Linked DNA regions of Homo sapiens: regions 2, 3 and 4 are each linked to region 1. Evidence: fine-mapped expression QTL. A gene starts in region 1. Each other region holds a variant in brackets. All regions are shown on one strand. Distances are from middle to middle.

Evidence for each region.
Region 2: its variant is fine-mapped to the expression of THEM4 in whole blood (INTERVAL, PIP above 0.99).
Region 3: its variant is fine-mapped to the expression of THEM4 in whole blood (TOPMed, PIP above 0.99).
Region 4: its variant is fine-mapped to the expression of THEM4 in whole blood (TOPMed, PIP above 0.99).

What each region holds. Positions count from the first base shown.
Region 1 is chr1:151,906,633-151,912,105 of GRCh38, forward strand. THEM4 (thioesterase superfamily member 4) reads right to left here and starts at 2,879. Exons shown (of 6, transcript NM_053055.5): 1 at 2,728-2,879. The coding sequence starts at 2,826. RefSeq lists enhancers at 1-164, 3,156-3,275, 3,264-3,851 and a silencer at 2,606-2,915.
Region 2 is chr1:151,884,305-151,889,777 of GRCh38, forward strand. It overlaps THEM4 (thioesterase superfamily member 4), which reads right to left. Exons shown (of 6, transcript NM_053055.5): 3 at 4,910-5,069; 4 at 3,969-4,079. Among named protein-coding and RNA genes, the nearest start is that of THEM4, 22 kb to the right of the region's middle. The variant G/A (reference allele first, on the strand shown) is at 2,270.
Region 3 is chr1:151,930,251-151,935,723 of GRCh38, forward strand. All of the region lies in intron 1 of LOC124904421 (a long non-coding RNA gene), which reads right to left. Among named protein-coding and RNA genes, the nearest start is that of THEM4, 23 kb to the left of the region's middle. RefSeq lists a silencer at 139-188. The variant T/A (reference allele first, on the strand shown) is at 2,357.
Region 4 is chr1:151,977,634-151,983,106 of GRCh38, forward strand. S100A10 (S100 calcium binding protein A10) reads right to left here. Exons shown (of 3, transcript NM_002966.3): 3 at 5,282-5,473. Among named protein-coding and RNA genes, the nearest start is that of S100A10, 13 kb to the right of the region's middle. The variant A/G (reference allele first, on the strand shown) is at 2,442.

The sequences.
Region 1 (5,473 bases):
CTAGCTAAAGGACTGTAAATACACCAATCGGCACTCTGTATCTAGCTCAAGGTTTATAAACACACCAATCAGCACCCTATGTCTAGCTCAGGGGTTGTGAATGCACCAATCGACACTCTGTATCTAGCTACTCTGGTGGGGACTGGGAGAACCTTTGTGTTGACACTCTGTATCTAGCTAATCTGGTGTGGACGTGGAGAACCTTTGTGTCTAGCTCAGGGATTGTAAATGCACCAATCAGGGCCCTGTCAAAACAGACCACTTGGCTCTACCAATCAGCAGGATGTGGGTGGGGCCAGATAAGAGAATAAAAGCAGGCTGCCCAAGCCAGCAGTGGCAACCCGCTCGGGTCCCCTTCCACACTGTGGAAGCTTTGTTCTTTCGCTCTTTGCAATAAATCTTGCTGCTGCTCACTCTTTGGGTCCACACTGCCTTTATGAGCTGTAACACTCACCGCGAAGGTCTGCAGCTTCACTCCTGAAGCCAACGAGACCACAAACCCACCGGGAGGAACGAACAACTCCAGACGTGCTGCCTTAAGAGCTATAACACTCACCACGAAGGTCCGCAATTTCACTCTTGAGCCAGCAAGACCATGAACCCACCAGAAGGAAGAAACTCTGAACACATCCGAACATCAGAAGGAACAAACGCCGGACATGCCGCCTTTAAGAACTATAACACTCACCACGAGGGTCCGTGGCTTCTTTCTTGAAGTCAGTGAGACCAAGAACCCATCAATTCCGACACAGTATGTAATCCTGAATTATGCACCTGTCACAATTTGATGAATTAATTGCCTTTGTGCTGCCTCTGTATCCTTGCTTTCACGCCACTATGCTTCACGCCACTGTAAGCTTGTTTCAAGCTAGCCCACCCCCTTTTAAAAGTGTGTATTAAAGTCAAGTGCTGTCTTTGTTCTGGGCCCAGCTTTTGGATGTTAGTCCGCTGGGTCTGAGTGCACTCAATAAAGTTCTCCTGTCTCACCCCATGGCCTCTCCAGTCCTCCTTCATTCCTGCAACAGAAGGATGAGTGAAATGGGGACTCAAAACCTCTCACTTTCATTTCTGAGCCTTTTGGTCTTATGGCATTCCTCTTCTTTTTGGGGGGACAGCAACGGCACCTATTTTTCTTTTTACGATACTGGAGGTGGTCCACACCCACCCCAATGGTCACCAGTGCACTCACAAGACAGTTGGGTGGGGTAGCTCCCTGGCCCCACTTCTTTACTGGCTGGGGTGCATGGTGGTGTCTGCAGCATGTGTGTGTGGTGTCCAGTAGCCACACAGGGCATAAATGAGCCACAGCCACTGCCCAGGCTCCAAGGCGCCGGCATGGCTGGCTGGCGTTCCCTACCAGGTGCCTGCAGTCTCCCCCTCCCCATTCCAGGGAGTCTAGCTCTGTCCCACAGCAATTAAGCTCCTCTCTCTGGTGGAGGAACCATTTGCATAGGAATAAGAGGTTCTTCCCCCAGGCATCCTTATCTCCTCTCCAACCCATCAGCAGTATACTTTTAAAGGAGGTTTTTCTTTTCCTTTTGGAAGACGTTTTGCTCTTTTGGGAATGATGAGGATTACCGTTTATATTTTCTGTAAAGTTTTGTGCGAAAGGATTTGTGAGGTAAGTCGTAAGCTGTAGCCAATCTGTGTGTTTTGCATGTCTTTCTGTATGCTCCACAGCAAACTTCGCTGCAGGCCTCCATCTTGTTTTACGTCCTTGGGGGCGTGGCCTGTAACCCCATTGCATAGCTTCGTTTAGCCCGGCATGGCCCAGATTCATCCTGGCTTAGGGAATGAGTCCTTTCTGGTTTGGTATCTGTATGCCCTTTCGCTATTTGTCGATTCCCCTGCCCTCCACCAACCACCTTGGATTTTCCTTTCTCTGAGCCTTTAAGTAAAGTTTGAAAGCCAGAAATATTGGCCGCTTGGTGGAGCTAAAGTTAGATAATAAGGGTGTTAAAAGAATTTTCTTAAGGAGTGCTCAGCTTAATTAAAAGTAGATATCTAAGTTGTAATTATATTTATAAGGCCTTTATGTTTTCCTTTTCTTGGACCTTATTTTGCTGGAAAAAGTGTTTCTTTGCGGTCGACTGAGTTATTTTTCTCCATTTTGCCTTGCCACTTTTAATGCCTGCATAAGAGGGGCGATCTCTGTTTTCCTCATGGAACCCCAGGAATTAAAAGCAGATAGATCCCTCTCCCTGTGATGAAAGATCTTATGGCAACTGGGTTTTCTTCTGCCTGTCTGTGTAGTTATATATGTGTTGTGTGTGATGTCTATAAAAAGATCTCTAATTAATTGACCTAAAGGAAGATAAGCGTTTGGATCAAATATTTTTTTAAAGGGAAGATAAAAGCTGTGGTATCTTTTAGTTCACGTCACTTTAATCTTTGAAAAATAAAAACAGCCTCAAATATTATTGGTAAAATACAGATGTTGTCAAAATATAAATAGACAGACTAAATTATGCAGTTCAGGTAGCGCCCTGCCGACCCTGTCTCTTAAAAAACAAAAAAACGGGGTCACCTTTCCATCCCTTTTCTAACGGTTTGAATCTCAGGACTGTATTCCTAGGCCCCTGTTGCTTATGCTGCCCTGTGGTGCCCAGGTGAGCTTTTATTCTGAGATTGGCTGGTTGGGGTATGGATAACAATCGAAGGCTCTGTTACCGCAGGCGTGTTTCTGAGTCCTGCTCCCGCCCCATGCCCGAGGGTGCCCAGACTCACCAGCTCGGGTCGCGGCTCGCTTCCCGGCAGGCGCCGGCCTACTGGCGGCAGGCACAGAGCCCCCAGCGTGCGGAGGCGCGCGGCGCAGCTCCTCAGCATGGCTCCGGGCCGCGGGGCCGCGCTTGCTCTAGCCCTGGACGGCGCACTCTACCTCCGCCACAAGAGCGCGCGTGCGAGTTAACCCCTGGGGTGGACGCAGGGCGGGGCTTGGGGAGGAGGCGGTGCGCACTACTGGCGGCTGGCTGGCCGGGGTGTGAGGCCGGCGGGGTCCGGGTAGGGCATCGCTGTTGAGTCTATCTTCTGGTTCCGGCCTTTTCTTTCCGAAGACCTCCCGCTGCGGCCAACAGCCGGGCCACTTCCGGGGCTTCTCAAAGGCAAGAGGAGCGCGGCCGGAGCGGATCCCGGTTATCGCCTTGGGCCCCTCAGCCCCTCAGCCCCGGAACCCGCGCGCCGACTGGAGGCTTTGCGGTCATCCTTCCCACATGACCCAGGGCGTACGCAGTGCTCCGTGTCCCCAAGTAGTTATCCCTCCCCCGGAAGACTGAAGTCCCTGGGGCGGGTAGGAGCGCACGCTAGGAGTAGTATGAATAAAGTGTTTTCTTGGAGGTCATGGGCAAGTCTCTGGACAGGGTTGATAGTGCTGATTTATAGAGGGCAGTCTGGGCACAAAGAGCATTTATACGATCGAAAAGCTGCTTTCCCTGCCAACAGCCCCATACCCTCCCCAGGAGCGCGCTTACGCCTTAAAAGACTCTTTTGTTATGTAAACTGACAGTTAAATTAAACGAAGGTAATGGATACTAAAGGCGTAACAGGTATTGTAACTATTTTACTGTTATCGATGCTTTTGAGGTTACTTACCTCGCTTGTATTCGTATGGTGGGAATACTAGGCGCATACCTTCTGAGCTTCGAATTCAGTAACCTCACTGGGACCTTGAAATCGGACTGGGTTGGAGTATTCCCATTACTCAGATAATGCAAATCCGGGCCATCATACCCCTTTATTTTTAAATGCTTACCAGTATGCCATAGCCCTAGTCCATCCTAAGGTGAAGACTCTAATGGGTTTTTTTTGAGACAGAGTCTCGCAGAGATACTGCTATTGCACTTCAGCCTGGGCAACATACTGATGCCCCATCTCAAAAAAGCAATAAATTAAAAAGAAAACTCGAATGACCTGAATGCATTAGATATTTTGCCTTGATTCCTTTCCCATGAACAACTCCAGCAGTTTGTCAGTAGGTAAGAACACCTAGATACATTTTAAGCCTACACTATTAACTGGGGGAAGGTGTAACATTCTGAGAGAAAGGGAATTGGGGAGAGAAGGCAATGCAGTTAGGAGGGGCCCCTTGGAATCCTAGAGCTACTGAACCGAAGATCAGGCATAAAGGATGGTTGTTGAGATTCTGTAATTCTAAGAGGTTGTATTCTGATATCTCCTAAGCACCCCCCCCAACCTCCCACATTCCCTTTATCTCAGTTGTCTTCCTTTTTAATATATTAATAGTATTGCAGTTTCCTGGTGGCAGGGATGGGGTCAGATTGCCTTATTAATTGTAACAACGTGCACGTAGTGCTTGAATACTTACTTAGCAGCAAGAATCCAAAGTATCTTTGGTGTCTGTTGTCTTCCCATGTTGTGCGTGCAGATGGAGGCACGAGCATAACGTAAATCTCTAAAATTGAGATGACTACTGTTAATGAATAGAAAAGTTTATTCAGGTAACTTAAAATTGCATCTATTTACAATTTACAGTGTAGTCAAATCAATCAATACCTATAGACTTCAACCCTGCTAAGATTGTCTATATGATTAATGTACCAATAGCTCACCTAACAGCTTCCTTTTGTTTTTTTGAGATGGAGTCTCACTCTGTTGCCCAGGCTGGAAGTGCAGTGGCATGATCTTGGCTCACTGCAACCTCTGCCTCCAGGGTTCAAGCGATTCTCCCTGCCTCAACCTCCCGAGTAGGTGGGATTACAGGCGCGTGCCACCACATCTGGCTAATTTTTATATTTTTGGTAGAGACGGGGTTTCACCCTGTTGGCCAGGCTGGTCTTGAACTCCTGACCTCAAGTGATCTGCCTGCCTCCCAAAGTGCTGGGATTACCAGCATGAGCCACTGCACTCGGCACCTATCAGCTTCTTAAAAGACCTTAGACTTAGGGCAATTAGAGGTCAGTTACACTGAGTTTAAACTTCATTAAATTTTAACTCTAAATTTTTCAAGTAGCGGCAGTGCATTTAGTTAAGTCATCCACACTCTTGCATGGCTTACTCTGGGATATTCGTGTTGACAGCACATATAAAATGTCTGGTCAGATTTGGAAGAGGAAGGGCAGGTTACAGTCTAGAAATAGGATTGATAGGCTATGGAAGTGAAGGAGTTTGAAGCTTGTATGGTTTAGGCAAGGAACAAATGTTCAATCTTGATAGAACTAGGCTTCGAATAAGCCAATGGTATGAAACTTAATAGTCTTCTCACCATTCTTTAATTTTGTAGACAGCTTTATTGAGGTGTAGTTGCCATAGGATGGGCACCGTGGCTCATACCTGTAATTCCAGCACTTTGGGAGGCTGAGGTGGGTGGATCACCTGAGGTCAGGAGTTTGAGACCAGCCAGGCCAACATGGTGAAACCCCGTCTCTGCTAAAAATACAAAAATTAAGGCCGGGCGCAGTGGCTCACTCCTATAATCCCAGCACTTTGTGAGGCTGCAGCGGGCAGATCACGAGGTCAG
Region 2 (5,473 bases), 22 kb before region 1:
ATTTTTAAAGCTTTCTTTTAAATTCTTGCAGTGGAGTGATATTTAGAAGTAACTCCTGTGTTATCTATCCATAAGAATTCACATTTACCCCTCTTGTTCTTACATCAGTCAGGTATCAAAGAAACCTTTCTATATAGACTGCCCACAAGGCGGGGTAGTTATAATAGGAAAATGGAGAGAAAGAAATGACATTCCACAGCTTTTGAGTTTCTAGCAAATTCAGAGGAAATGTTCTGACCTTTACCAGCATACCATCTTATCAGGGTAATTTCTTCAGTTCTATATTTCTGTTCACTTTCAGCTGTGTTTAAATAGTCCTTTAACCTATTCACTGAGGTATTTTTTTGTTTTTAAACAATTACACTTTCATTTCCTTTTTTTTGTTTTTTTTTTGTTTTTTTTGAGATGGAGTCTCACTCTGTCGCCCAGGCTGGGGTACAATGGTGCAATCTCTGCTCACTGCAACCTCTGCCTCCTGGGTTCAAGTGATTCTCCTGCCTCAGCCTCCCAAGTAGCTGAGATTACAGGTGCGCACCACCACACCCAGCTAATTTTTGTATTTTTAGTAGAGACGGGGTTTCACCATGTTGGTCAGGCTAGTCTCAAACTCCTGACCTTGTAATCTGCCCATCTCAGCCTCCCAAAATGTTGGGATTACAGGCGTGAGCCACCATGCCCGGCCTACAATCTCATTTCTCAAAGTTTTATTAGGTTCTGTGGCAAACCTGCCTAATAATTTTTATAGTTTATCATTGTTTTCTCTTTTTGTGATTTCATCTTTTATTTATTTATTTATTTATTTATTTATTTATTTATTTATTTATTTATTTTTCTGATGGAGTATCGCTCTGTTGCCCAGGCTGGAGTGCAGTGGCACAATCTTGGCTCACTGCAGCCTCCATCTCCCAGGTTCAAGCGATTCTTCTGCCTCAGCCCCCCAAATAGCTGGGATTACAGGCACGTGCCACCACACCTGGGTAATTTCTGTATTTTTAGTAAAGTCAGGGTTTTGCCATGTTGACCAGGGTGGTCTTGAACTCCTGACCTCAGGTGATCCACCCGCCTTGGCCTCCCAAAGTGCTGGGATTACAGGCGTGAGCCACTGTGCCCAGCCTCATCTTTTATTTCTTTAAACATCTCATACTTTATTCATTTATATTGTGTATTTGATTATCATCATATCTTAGATCCCTGAGGTCTAAATCTTATTTATTGTTTCTGTTGATAGTCACCCTTGGTAGTTTCTTTCCTTGTGTATTTGGTACAGGATCTACTTGTTTTGAAGGAGGAATGTCCTTTAGCATTTCTTGTTTGCCATGTTGCATGAAGAAATCGAATCAGGAGCTTCTCAACTCATGTGTCATGAATGGGTCATTGGCATGCTGAGATATTTACCCTTTCAGCTGGCTTGTCATCACTAGTTTGACCTGCTTTGTCTATTTATCTTAATGTGCTAGGCACAAGGAAATAAATCAAGTGGGATATTTGGATCAGAGGGCTGGAAATTATTTGAAATCATTAAGGAATAATCTTGCTTCTTAAAGGAAGTAAGGTAGATTAAGGCATCTGATGATTAATTGACACTGCAAATTATTTTCAATTAAAATATAATCCCAGGTTGTTACCTGTAGCATCTTGAAGGACTGTCAAGTAATCATATTAAATTTAATATTATTACTATTATTATGAACCTAAATAACTGTATACAAAAAAACAGAGAGTGATAAATATTAAATTCTAAACTACTTATAAAATCCAATACTTTATTCTGGTCTTTAGTCATCAACTAACAGAAGACAATGGAGGCTGTGTGTTGTAGTGAAGAGCATCAGATTTGGTGTCATAAGATGTGAGTTCTAATTCTGACTAAATTGCTCTCTATCCATATGACTTCAGGTAAAACTTCTTTTCAGTATGTTTTCCAATTGTGGGGAACAAATGAACAGCAATGCAACTGATTTTTGTGGATGGTTTATTGGGTGGGACAAACACTAAGCATAGAGTTTGGCAGGTTCTGTTTCCCATTTTGCATTTGAGTATGTGCTTAAGACACAAACACTTTTTGAGATAAACAGCAATCTAAATACTTTGTTTCAGCTTGTTTTCAAAGTAACCGTTTACATTTATTTTTTTAGGAACGATGTTATACTTCATTATTCAACTTTATTTGAACATGGAAAAATATTTTTAAAAACATGGGACATGGAAAAATATAAAAAATTTAATTTTTAATATATTCTTTAACATGTTAAGAAAACCCAGATTTCTA[G/A]AATCTAATTTATAGTTATAACTAATATGAAATATTGACCATCTGTAAATATGTCAACTTTCCCCAAATTAATCTCTAGAATCAATGTAATTGCTATTAAAATTGTTAAAAGGAGGTACAATGACAATCTGGGTTTAAAGGTTAAAAATCTAAGGCACAACTAGGAATAGAAAGAAACTCTCTCAACATAATAAAGGCTATTTATGAAAACCCTACAACTAACATCATGCTGAATGGTAAAAGACTAAAACCTTTTCATTTAAGATCAGAAACAAGACAAGGATGCCCACTTTTGCCACTTCTATTCTACATGGTACTAGAAGTCCTAGCCAGAGCAATTAGGCAAGAAAAAGAAATCAAAGGTATTCAAATTGGAAAGGAAGAAGTACAAAGATCTGTTTACAAATGACATGACTTTGTATATAGAAAATCCTAAAGATTCCACAAAAACCTGTTAGAATGAATAAACAAATTCAGCAAAGCTGCAAGATGTAAAATCAACACAGAAAAAGCAGTTGCATTTCTATACACAAACAATGACTAATCCAAAAAGGAAATTAAGAAAACAATTAAGGCCAGGTGCAGTGACTCACATCTGTAATCCCAGCACTTTGGCAGGCCAAGGCAGGCGGATCACTTGAGGCCAGGAGTTTGAGATCAGCCTGGCCAACAAAGTGAAACACTGTCTCTACTGAAAATACAAAAAATTAGCCAGCTGTGGTGGTGCATGCCTGTAATACCAGCTACTTGGCAGGCTGAGGCATGAGAATAGCTTGAACCTGGGAAGTGGATGTTGCAATGAGCTGAGATCATGCCACCACACTCCAGCCTGAGCAATAAAGTGAGACTTTGTCTCAAAATAATAATAATAATAATAAAAAAATTAAAAATAAAAAAATCAAAAAGAATAAAATACATAGGAATAAACTTAACCAAAGAGCAAAAGTCTTATACACTGAAAACTACAAAACATTGATGAAAAAAATTAAAGACACAAATAAATGGAAAGACATCTGTGCCTGTGGACTGAAAAGACTCGGTGTTTTGTGTGTGTGTGTGTGTTTTTGTTGTTGTTGTTTTTTTTACAGTTGGGGTCTTGTTGCCCACCCTGGAGTGCAGTGGCATGATCCTAGCTCACTGTAGCCTTGAACTCCTGGGCTCAAGCAATCCTCTCAAGAAGCTAGGACTACAGACGTGCACTGCTGGGCCCAGCTAAATTTTTAAAAAATTAATTTTGTTATGTAGTAGATGTTGGTGCTCCACCCAGAGCCCCTTGGATCCTTTCTTCACTTGTTTTGGTTATTTTCTCTAGAGTCTGCTTTGCTCAAACACAGAGACCCTTAGAAGTACTTGGAAATTTATGGTCCCTGGGATGGCCCTGATCCTATGACCAATACATGCGAGAGTATAAAGACTCTAGCTCCCTCATCTGAGATGGAGACAATTCTGAGGCATAAATTTCATTCTAGAGCTCTCTTGTATGATCTGGCTAAAGCTATGCTTTGCTGGACTTTTGAGAGTTCAGCCTTGGTTGACACTTCTTCATCTTCCCCGTCCTGCTTCTCCCACTCCCTTGCTAGTCTCCTCTGGGAGCACTTCCTTAATAATCACTTGAACACAAATTATGGTGTCAAGATCTGCAACTGGGAACCTGACTTAACAACACCTAAGGATAAATAGAGAATTACTGTGAATTTACCTTTTATAATTGATGTTGAGATTGGCAGTCATGACGATTCCCCCAGCCATCATTGCACACATACCAACAGTAGCATCAATCATGGTTGCAATGGCACCTCCATGAATGAATCTAGTTACAACAGGAGTGGAGGAGAAATGTTTTCAGAAGTTCTGAAGATAGAGAGCCTCTTGAAAGAGAAAAATTATCCAAGCATCTTCACACTATTTACTTATGAAAGGTCCACTTAGCCCATGTTCAGTGTACTGAATGCCAAATACTATCTATGTCCCCAACTTTGTTTTGTTCACAGCATAATAATATAGTCTTAAGTATTTGTAATAAAACCAGAACTTAATAGTAACCAGATCGCAAGCAAGCAAAAAGCTAAAATGTAATTTAGAAAATTTATATTATGTTTTTATTATTAGTCAAGTGTGGTGTCATGTGCCTGTAGTTCTGGCTACTCGGGAGACTGAGGTGAGAGGATTGCTTGAGCCCAGGAGTTCGAGGCTGCAGTGAGCTATGATTATGCCACTGCACTTCAGCCTGGGCAAAGGAGCAAGGCCTTGTCTCACAAAACAAAACAAACTATACATATTCATTGTTTAGAAATGTAGGTAATGCAAATATGAAAAAAAAGAAAAAAATTTAGGACCCATAATACTACCCACCTAGTCAGTGACAAGCCACTGTTAACACATTAATGATATGCTCTCAAATTATACTCTATTGCCCTATGCCCTATAATATTATAATGCTCATATATAAAAATATTTAATCAATATTAATAATATAGATAAGATGTCCTTTAATAATGTATTATAAACATCTTTCCATGTCAATAAATATACATCTATGTGACCATTTGAAAATCTTTATTGTAGTCCATGTACAGGACACATGGGGGCAGTGTAAGATAAAAATCTTTTAGATCCACACTTTCAGGCTATCATTCTTACCCAGGTGGTCCTTCCAGGTAAGGGCCTCCTTGAAATAAGCAAACCATCCTTTTCTCAATGTCATTGTAGAACATCACGTATTCAAAGCCCAGGCCATCATCAAAGCTTCTGGTGAAGAGCTGGGCCTGTGACATTTGTTCTTCTTTCATAAGCTTTGGGTCTATAGAAAATGAGGTGGATGGCAAATGAGAAACAAGGGTGAGAGAAATGCCATGGCAGAGCCAAGCACCTGTACCCTGCTAGAATCACATGTCAATAGATGATTGATTCAAATGTCCACAGGGTGCAAAATTGAAAGGAATGGGAGCGTCTCAATGAAACAGAAGATAGGATCTTTGCCCTTGTGGAATTAACAGTCCAACTGGGGACAGAGTAAACAGACATGAAATCAAAATGAAGTACCCACACATGGCAATCAGGAATATAGTATATAAACGCTAACAATATACTGAATAAAATGGTACGGTAAAGACGGAAATCCTTCTTGGAAGAACTGTGGTTTAAATGCAATTTACAGAAAATAAAAAATGTAACAGAAAGGAGGTTTCCCTGGCAGACATGAGT
Region 3 (5,473 bases), 24 kb after region 1:
AGCAGAGACACATGGTGAAAGATTTATAGACAGAAAAAGGAACATGATATACACAAAACAAAAGTGAGGTACAGAAATAGCTGGATTGGTTACAGCTCAGTGTTGCCTAATTTAAACACAGTTTGAACAGTTGGCCACCTTTGGCCAAAACTCTGTGATTGTCAGGAGAGTAGGTTACAATCTGTTTAACCTCCATTTAGGTTATAGTATACTGTGTACAGAGAAACTTTTAGGGAGAACTTAAAATATGGAAGGAGGCAGCTTTAGGCTAAACTTGATTTAACAGTTTCCTTATTTTGGTCATCTTCTCAATTTTGAGAAATTGACCAAAACTTTAGTCATTGTCACCATCATAAATGTACTTATTTGGTCTTCAAACCCACTGATAAATAGCAGACCAGTGGGTTTTGTAAGGTGGGAACAAGAACTTCAGATTATTTTTTTGGTAAGGGTTAGAGTAGAGGATACCTCCTCATGCTGGAATCTTCTGTTTACAGGAGAAAAATAAAACTTGGTCTGTTTTAGGATCTATCTGTTTCTTAAAGTCTTAGTTTGATGTGTCACATTTAGCATGAATTATTCCACTTTGGTTTGATCTGGTTTGTTGGGGCCTAGAGCCTGAGCTCAGTCCAAAACAATGGCCACTCATAATTTTGTTTAAAAACTCCCCGCTTTTGGTCAGGTTCTCCCTTAGGTGAGAGTATAACCAAAACTTAGAGCCTTAACGCTACTCTCAGTTACCATCATTTTGGGTTTTCATTCTCAGCATGTCATTCATAGGTTACAGTGCCCTCATGGTCACACATTTCTCTCAGCTCTTCTCATTCTAGTGGAAGAGAGACCATTTAACACTCTAGAGATGGCTGCATGCAAATATCTAAAAGTTTTGAGGGAATACGGCAGACCGGGGAGACTACTATTATGACTATCAAAAGGATAATGCCAAGAGTTTGGTGTATGCTCCTTAGCCAGGGTCCCCATGAACCAAACCAACTAAAATCAAATAGATCAAATAATGAGTTAGATTAATAGTCTACTCACTTTAACCAAGCAGCCTGTTTATTAATCCCCTATAACTGAGTCTTTATAATACTCTATGTATTTCTCCAAGGGCAACAAGAAGTGCCAGCAACTGCACAGATACTTTTCTGTTTAGCCAGTTAGTAATCTAGAGCCATTCTACTATTTGGCATAACTTTCACAAGATAATTTATTTATTTGATTTATTTTATTCTTTTTTGAGATGGAGTCTCACTCTGTCACCCAGGCTGGAGTGCAGTGGCATGATCTCGGCTCACTGCAACCTCCACCTCCTGGGTTCAAGAGATTCTCCTGCCGCAGCCTCCTGAGTAGCTGGGATTACAGGTGTGTGCCATCACGCCCACCTAATTTTTGCATTTTTGGTAGAGAAGGGGCTTCACCATGTTGGTCAGGATAGTCTTGAATGCCTAACCTCAAGTGATCCACCCACCCTCAGCCTCCCAAAGTGGTGGGATTACATGTGTGAGCCACCGCGTCTGGCGTGGAAGCTTGCTTTCTGAGATTCCAGGCTGTTCTCTTTAACTTGGATAAAGACCTTCTCTTTGGATCATCTCTCTTGTCCTTGTACTCCTCATTTTTAAAAACTGCATTCCCTGTAGTTTCTCCCTAGCATGGGTCCCTGTCTTGGAAGGGAGCCTTGGCAAATGAATTTTGAGTTCATAGGGGCCAGACTGCTCCAGCCCTCTTAAGTCCTTACTGTGGGCCTCTTGTACTTACCTCCTATTGGAGAGATCAGATCTTTCCCTTTTCAGCTGTGTCTTCCATACCTATTACTGTTGGAGAGTTCTCAGGTCCATCAGACACTGTCTCCATTTCTTCATTCTTCTTCCTCACACACTGATGCAGAAACCATGCAAGTTTTGTGACTGCTGGTTTGTCCCCACTTGTTTGTATTTTGAGGCTCGTGGGAATACTTTGTCATTTGTTTTTTTGTAAATGTCTGTAGGGTTTGGTTTTGCTATCTAGTTGAGACTTAGCCTGTTCAGGCTGCTATGACAAAATACCTTAGAGAGAGTAATTTACCAACAACAGAAATTTATTTCTCACAGTTGTGGAGGCTGAGAGGTTCAAGGTCAAGGCACTGGCAGACTCAGTGACTAGAGAGGGCCTGTTCTTCATAGGTAGTGCCTTCCATGTGTCCTCACATGGCAGAAGGGGTGAACAGGCTCTCTTGAGCTTCTTTTACAAGGGCACTAATCCTACCCACAAGGGCAGAACCCTCATGATAGAATCCTTTCCCAAAGGCCCTACCTGTTAATATCATCACCTTGGGAGTTAGTTTTCTATATGTGGATTTTGGGGGCAGGGGAGTCAC[T/A]AACATTCAGACAATAGCAAGTTGCTCGTTTGTTTTTGTGTTAGGATTAGGAAAGATTGAACACCTATGCTGTTGCCCCTGCTGCTGCCATCTTCCCAGAATCTACTATGCTACAGTGTACTTTGCTTTTTGTGTGTGCATATATATATATATATATATATATATATATATATATATATATACACACACATATATATGTATATATGCTTTTGTGTATATATATACATATATATGTGTATATATATATACATATATATGTTTAAATTAATAGACTTTATTTTTTAGAGCAGTTTTAGTTTCACAGAGAAACTGAGTAGTAAGTACAGAGAATTACTATTTACCCCTACCCTCTTCAAACCCAAACAGCTTCTTCTATTATCAATGTCATGCGTTAGTGTAGTGCATTTATTACAATTGATGAGCCAGCAGTGATATTTTAACCAAAGTCCTTAACTTACATTAGGGCTCATTCTTTTTGTTGTATAGTTCCATAGCTTTTGACAGCTGTGTAGTGCCATGTGTATTATATTTCTGTGAGCGTTAAAAAGAAGAATGACCCTCTGCTTAGAAGCGGCTTACCTGTTTCTGGTACAGACACCTTAACACATGGATTTATGCAAGGGTTTTCATGGAGGGGATTCTATGTAATACAACAAATAACAACCTCAAAGAATCCTAACTGTAAAGACAACAAAAGTCTCACAGGGCTAAACCATGTAATGTCTCTTAATTAAGCTGATGGCATCAAATTTCAGTGAAAGAAATTCAAAGGGAATGGAGGCGACCCAGCAGAGGGGGCAAAACAATATAGTACAGTTATTCAGCTTTCTGGTAATCTGGCCTCAGAGAAACATGTACTGTGACTTATATATACTTCAGATAATCTTGCATAAAGTTTTTTGATAGATATTGAGAGGCAGCACCAACAATATAAATGTTTTCTTATTAGACATTCTTTCTCAAATGCAAGCCATTGTTTTGCTTGAGATTCTAAGTCTGGGTTCTCTGCAAGAGGAGAGATGGGCTTTAAACATGGGTAATAGTCCACTGACAACTGTGACATTTCACCAGCTAGTGTAGAAAGGCATTGGGAATAGCACCAGATTTCTTGTAGCCTTTTTTGTTTTTGTTTTTGTGTGGAACTGTTTGCAGCTATATGTTCCATAAAGTTTTAACCTTTCCAAGTGGTTTTAACCTTTCCAATCAGACTATATTAATAGTAACTGTTTTCCATTTATTTAAAAAACTTTTTTCTTCCATTTCTTTTGAAATTACCTTATAATACCACTGACTATACACAAGGGGGAGATCACATAATTTGTTGACAATTTTGATCAGTATGTTGTCACCAAAACTGCACATTAACCCGAAAGAGCCAAAAGAGTGTGTATAAGTTTCCTCTTGTTGCTATAACAATTATTACAAACTTAATGGCTTAAAGCAACACAAATTTATTATTTTACAGTTCTGGAGGTCAGAAATTTGAAGTGGGTCTCAGGGGGCTGAAATCTAGGTGTCAGCAGAGCTGTACTCCTAGAGGCTCTAGGGAAGAATCTGTTTTCTTCCTTTTTCCAGCCTCTAGAGGGAGCCCACATTCTTTGGCTTGGTCCCTCAGCCAGCAATTGTAAAACTACCTCTGCTTCTGTCGTCCCATTTTCTGTAACTCTTCCGCACCTTTCTTCCTTGCACCCTACACCCTTGTTATTACATTGGGCCTGCCCATGTAATCCAGGATAATCTTCCCATCTCAAGATCCTTACTTAATCACATCTGCAAATCCCTTTTGCCATGTGTGGTAACGTATTCACAGACTCCAGAGACTTACTTGGACCTTTTTGGGGGCCCATTATTCTGACCTCCACAAGTGTATTTAGATAATTATCTATTCTTCCATTTATTTTTGTCCTGAATCTTCTGGATTTTTGGTTAGTAGGTAAAATTTTTGACTATTATAAATTTCCTTTGAGTAATTAGGAAGATTTTATACATTTTAAATTATTTCCTGGTAAACTTTTAGGCTGATATTCGTCAATAAATGAACAGGTTATATCTATCTCAATACCTAACAGTTTATTCTTTAAGTGATGACTATTATCTAATTAGGGACTTGGAAGAACTTCAAAGCTTAGTCTTCTAGATTTTACAAAGTGATAGATTGCTCTATTATTTATCATTTTGTTTCCAAACTGAGTATAAAATAGTCAATAGATACGTAAAATGAGACCTCAGAGCTGTTTCCTCTTTTGCAAAGTGAGCGATAAGATGCTCCCCACCTCTCTGTCCAGTTCTTACATTCAATAGAAAGACTAAATACGCCTAGAAGACAATGAAATACGTTGAGTGACTCAAAGTTGCTCAGAAATTACCATGAGGAATACCCATCCTAGCTTTCCTTGAACCCTGGACTGCAGTGCTCATCACCATCAAATCTCATGGAATATCTGGTGGGCTAGATTTTGAGTTGTTGCTTTTTGGGTACTCTGCCAGGTGGTATTGTACAGCAGACACATTAAAAGTGACTGAAGTGCAATATTTGTGTCCTCCCCTGAGTGGGATTAGGATCAGAGAAAGTAGGTTCTAAGACATAGAAACCTGTCATGTGAAAAGTCTTTAGGTGAACAAACTGCAGAAAATTTACGGTTGCAAGAAAAAAGTACAATGAGTTCTAAGACCCTCCTGGAAAATGAGGTTGAGTCATTCTGAGGATAGTGCTTCTCACAGGGGAGCTGGGAGGGGAAGGAGGCAGGGCAGAGCTGGCAGCTGCAGGAAGCATGGGCTCTGCCTGTAGGATTTTTCATTCCATAGCAGAAACCACGGAAACTGCAGCCATCTTCATCATGGAGAGGGCTGGGGAAAACAAAGTGGGGAGAATAAAGAACGGGAGATTATCACAAGACTATTACTTATATTCCCTTGGTTTCTGGTATCACAAGGGTTGTAGAGCACTTAACAATTTTTTTTTTCCTTGAGACGGTCTCGCACCCAGGCTGGAGTGCAGTGGCATGAACATAACTCACTGCAGCCTCGACCTCCCAGGCTCAAGCAATCTTCTCGCCTTAGTTCCCCAAGTAGCTAGGCGCACACCAACATGCCCAACTAATTTTTGTATTTTTTGTA
Region 4 (5,473 bases), 71 kb after region 1:
TGAGTTGGAATCTCAGTGGGAAACTAGATGAGCTAATGTTCTATCAGAGGCTTTTCTCACCTAGACGCTGTGGCCCTATCATCTTGATTTTTTTCCCTCTCAATTTTGGCATGACTTGCCAGAGGTCAAATTTTTTTCCTCTGTACTTAGAGCTTCTCAGAAAGATAAAAGTGAATCCCATCCCTGTTTTATCTTTTGTAGCCAGAATGTGATTGGAATGTGAGCAATGGAGAAAAGTGGGTTGAACATTCACAAGAACATACTGTCTGATTGTCTCCTTTTAGACGAGGGCCACCTCTTTTTCCCGAAGGAGTAGTAATAACCCAAACCTAGGACCTGTAGAGATTTTTATTGAGCAAACTCACCCACAACATATCCTTTATTCTTTCCATTTATCATTCCTTTAACACCTCCTGCCTGTCCTATCCCACCTACACACACTTTCTGCAGTGAGCATACACCACTTTAGACATGCTGGATTCTACGTGGCCTCCTGAGTTTTCTGTGTCCTGGACATTCCTTTGCTCCATCATTACTACGTCCAGGGATGCAGCAGAGAAGAGTGGCTAAAATCTTAGACCACCTGTGTTCAAATCCTGCCTCCACCTTGGTCAAATCACCTGTAAAGTGGGAACAGTAATAGTACCTACTTCATAGTTGTTGGGAGGAACAAACGAGTTAATACTTGTGAAGCACTAGAACAGAGCCTGCAATGTAGTAAGAACTCAATGTTAGCTGGTATCCAAATCTAAATTTCTTCCAATCTTCAAAGACCAGATAACATCTTATCTCTTACACAAAATCTTATCTGACTAGCCTCATCTAACCCACGAAATCTCTTACTTTTTTGAAAGAATAACACAGTTGATAGTTAATTTACTCAAATAGCCCCTTGAGACAACTGCAGAATACAAGCTGCTCTGCCTATGGAGTAGCCACTCTTTATTCCTTTCCTTGCTTTTCACTTTACTCTAAAAAAGAAAAAAGAAAAAGAAAAAAAGGAAAGAAAGGGAAGGAGGGAAGGAAGGAAGGAGGGAAGGAAGGAAGGAGACTATCTTGATATCTGGGTTTAAATCTTGAAACAATAAGTGCTGTGGGACTTTGAGGGAGTTACTTAAGTCTTAGTTTTGTCATCTGTAAAATGGATGTTATAATACCTTCACAGGGTTATTGTGAGGTCCAAGTAAGATAAATGCTTAAAAAGTATCTCATACAGGTCCTGACTCATGGTAGACCCTCAATAAATACACAGGCTCTTTCAAAATATATTATTTAAAATTTTATGGATTGTGAAAGTGCAAGTGCATGTAGGTGGGCTAGGAAGGAATTGCATAGAAAATTAAGATAATATAGCACTGTATATAAAGAAAATTACAATAGTCTCATAAACGTCTTTCTGGAGCAACAATTTCCCTGGCCAGTAACTCCTACTCTGGAAACTAAATACAGCTGGGTGTATTCCCTTTAGTTTCTCTCTCTCTCTCTCTCTCTCTCGCTCGCTTGCTCTTGCTCTCACTCTTGCTCTCTCTCTCTCTCTCTCTCTGTGTGTGTGTGTGTCTTTGCAGGCATGCACTCAAGCAGACACGCATATTTAGAAAAGAAAGGAATCCGATTATATACCAATTTTGCAGTCTGCTTTACTTTACATAGACATTTCCCCATCTCATTTAATATTTTTCAAAGTGATGGTTTTGATGGGCCATATAGCATCCCATGTACATCTAAACAATCTAAACATAACTTATTTAACCATGACCCCATTGTTGAATATTGAGGTTTTCTTTAGGTTTTAGCTATTCTAAATAATGCTGCATCAAATAGCTTTGTATATGAATATCATAAGTATCTTTGATTATTTTGCTAAGAGAAATTCTTAGGAATAGAAATACTGGGTCAAAGAAAACACATTAAAGGATTCAGGTACATATTGCTAACTTTTGCCTTTCTGAAAGGTCGTGTGAATTACATACCTATCAACAGTGACCAGAGGTGCCCATCACATGTCTCCCTTGCCAATGCTCTGTTGTGTTGACGGAGTCTCGCTCTGTCGCCCAGGCTGGAGTGCAGTGGCATGATCTCGGCTCACTGCAAGCTCCGCCTTCCGGGTTCACGCCATTCTCCTGCCTCAGCCTCCCGAGTAGCTGGGACTACAGGCGCCCACCACTGCGCCCAGCTAATTTTTTGTATTTTTAGTAGAGACGGAGTTTCACCGTGGTCTCGATCTCCTGACCTCGTGATCCGCCCGCCTCTGCCTCCCGAAGTGCTGGGATTATAGGCGTGAGCCACCGCGCCTGGCCTGCTTTATCTATTATCTTTCAATCTAGATTGTAATCTTCTTGAGCAGGCACTGTGGTCATCTGCTTCTTCGTACCTGCCTTTATACAGAACATTGCTTGGTGCCATTCACATGGTAGCCCTTGCTAATATTTGCCAAGTGAATG[A/G]ATTTCTATTCACAACTATCCCTGTGGGGTTAAGAGCTGGAGAAGGGACTTGAACAATTACTTGACCAATCACGAATTGGTCAAATTTGAATGAGAGAGGTTTGTAGACTTGTCCTCGGTCTCCTAGTGAGATGGGTTAGGTAGAAAACTATTAAATCACAGGTAGTTGGCCGCTGTTCAGGGGACTTGGACAAGGGAGTGGGTCCAAGAGAGAAAAATGATGTTTTTCAGGGTCAGCTCTGCAGCGTGTTGGAAACTGACTTTCTGCACTGCTATTCATTCTTTTTTTGTAACTGGGTGTGGGGAGGGGCGGGATCTACTTTTTACAACTCAGCCATGTAGCAGAATGAGTGGAATTTTCCAGATGGTTCCTCTTGATGACTGTTGGCATAATGGCAGTTTTGCCCCTTGGGAGCCATTGGGCTGCAACCCCTGAAGCCTAGACAGCAGTTTTAGCAGGTCAGATTGTGGGATCCGTGTGTTTTTGTTGGCACAAAGAGCCATGTGGGATTTCAAGCCATAAATACCATTTTTATTTTCCTCATACAGCTCCCTACTAAATGAGCAATGAGGCCAAAGCGAGGAAGGTGCCATAACCCTTTCCCTCAATACACATACACATCCATCCCAAATACAGTGACTCAGATCATTTCCTGGCACTGGGCACCTTCTGAATGAGAGTTTGGGGTAATCTGCTGGGAATAACACATTGCTTCAGAATTTTTCTGAATCTACACACCCACTGTGAAGATGAGTTGATGCTTCCTTTCTCTTACCCTGAGAGCCTCCCTCCTCCTGGGATAGTTGTGTTTTTGTTTTCAGGTAAAAGAGGCTTAGAGTGTGAAAGTTTGCTATGGATTTCAGGACATGTGAGCTCATAATATCTCCCTTTTATAATCTTCCCCATTCATTTGTGAGTTGACCACTAATCCTCCTAATACCCAGTAAACACAGTTGCCCAGGAGGCAGGTTAACCAAAGGGGTGAATCTGGACTGACACAAATTCTCATGGATTGCCTTACTGTGATGGGCCAGTTTTTTTTTCTTGTCTCTATTACAGACGTCATCTTCCAGAGCCTCCTTTCCTTAGAGCCACAATTTCTTTAACTTCCAGGTTGGAAGACTTCACGTAGGATTAGGAATTGTCACTGTGGTAGAATCAGCTGCTAATGTGCAAAGGTTGGAAAATGTTAGAACTTTATTTCCCAGAGTCCCTTGCGGTTAGGAATTTGTTGTGGTTAAGGCTCTGCCAGTCAGATGCACCTCACTGAGACTTGGATATGAGAGCCCAGCCGTATGTGGAAAGAGGGAGGGTGATGGGGATGTGCGTTTGCTTGTGCAGACTGTGCCATGGTCCTGGAGCAGCCAGCTGTGGCTATGGCTCCTCATTCAGCAGGCAGCTTCCTGAGCCAGCAGCTCCTTGGCGGCCCAGTTCTGTAGCATGGGTTTGGAAGTCATTCCTGGAGTCAATCTAGAGTCACTTCTTTAACTAATCAACTCCCCTCCTTCATTAATACTCCCGTAATAAATTCCTCTTTGTAAACTTGCTGATATAATGCTTCAGCCGCAAAGCTATGGTTTGTTTTACACTGTTCATTTGTTGACTGAGAAAAAATAAAATGGTTGGAATGTTTTCCTTTTTTATTATGGATTTCTTTCTACCAAAGCCAGTTTTGAACTATCCTGTTCTCTTTTGCATGCTTTTCCTTGTGACTATCGATAACCTTATATTGCACTTTTTCCCAGAGTGAGATGGAAGTTTTTCCCAGAGTTAATATTGATGTGTCCAATCAAAAAAGTAAATATTCCAGGCCGGGCGCGGTGGCTCACGCCTGTAATCCCAGCACTTTGGAAGGCCGAGGCGGGCAAATCACAAGGTCAGGAGATCGAGACCATTCTGGCTAACACGGTGAGGCCCCGTCTCTACTAAAAATACAAAAAATTAGCTGGGCATGGTGGCAGGCGCCTGTAGTTCCAGCTACTCGGGAAGCTGAGGCAGGAGAATGGTGTGAACCTGGGAAGGTGGAGTTTGCAGTGAGCCGAGATTGCACCACTGCACTCCAGCCTGGGTGACAGAGCAAGCCTCCGTCTCAAAAAAAAAAAAAAAAAGTAAATATTCCATCTTCTTTGACCTATTTACTTGGAACAATGCTATGTGCCAATTCATGGAATTCATATATCACCTCTCCATAAAAGCATAGAGTACTGTGTTATTAATAAGCATATAGCATTGATGCACATATACCCTGAAGCTTCTAACAGGCACAAAAAAGGGCTAGGAGGAACATTTTGCATTGATTATCAAGACATCAGTACTGACACTTCATTTTCAACAAAAGTGTACTGCCCCGTGTATAAGTCATGCCTACCATATTTCCTGACATCTGGGAGTTGACTTAATAGATGCTAATGTGATGTTATTACCAAGGTGTCAAGCTACACCCTCTCCTGATTGGTTCTCCTAGTTCTGCCTTAGGTTTGCTGACACTTTGCTATGAAAATTGGATTCAGACATTGCAGGCATGCAAAGTGCTGGCTAGAAAAGCACTGATTTAACTGGGCAAAACTGTGCCCAGTAATTATAAACTTACCATCTATTCCTGTAGAGCCTTCTCCTAATCCTTCAAGTTTGAGTCCTTCATATAGACACAGCTACAAGGGCAGAACAATTAGAGAAGTCAGACTCCAAGCCTGAATGAAGAGTGTTTTCTCATTTTGCCAGTTCTGTGAGAAAAGCTCTGCTGTGTAAGAAAAGCTCTGCTGTGTGCTGGCTGCCCAAGGGCAAGCTGCCTCTTGGGGAACAAGAATTTCTGAGGGAACAACAAACATTCTGTCTCAAATTTGGAACTAAAAAAGAACTTTATTTATTGAGGGCAAGGGGATGCAAACAATACAAAAATCAAAAGCTTATCTGGTATTTAACTTTTCTTTCTCTGCTTGTCAAATGAGAGTTAGATTTTATTTTTACATTTGCTAAGTGTCCTGATCTGCTCATGAAATCCTTCTATGGGGGAAGCTGTGGGGCAGATTCC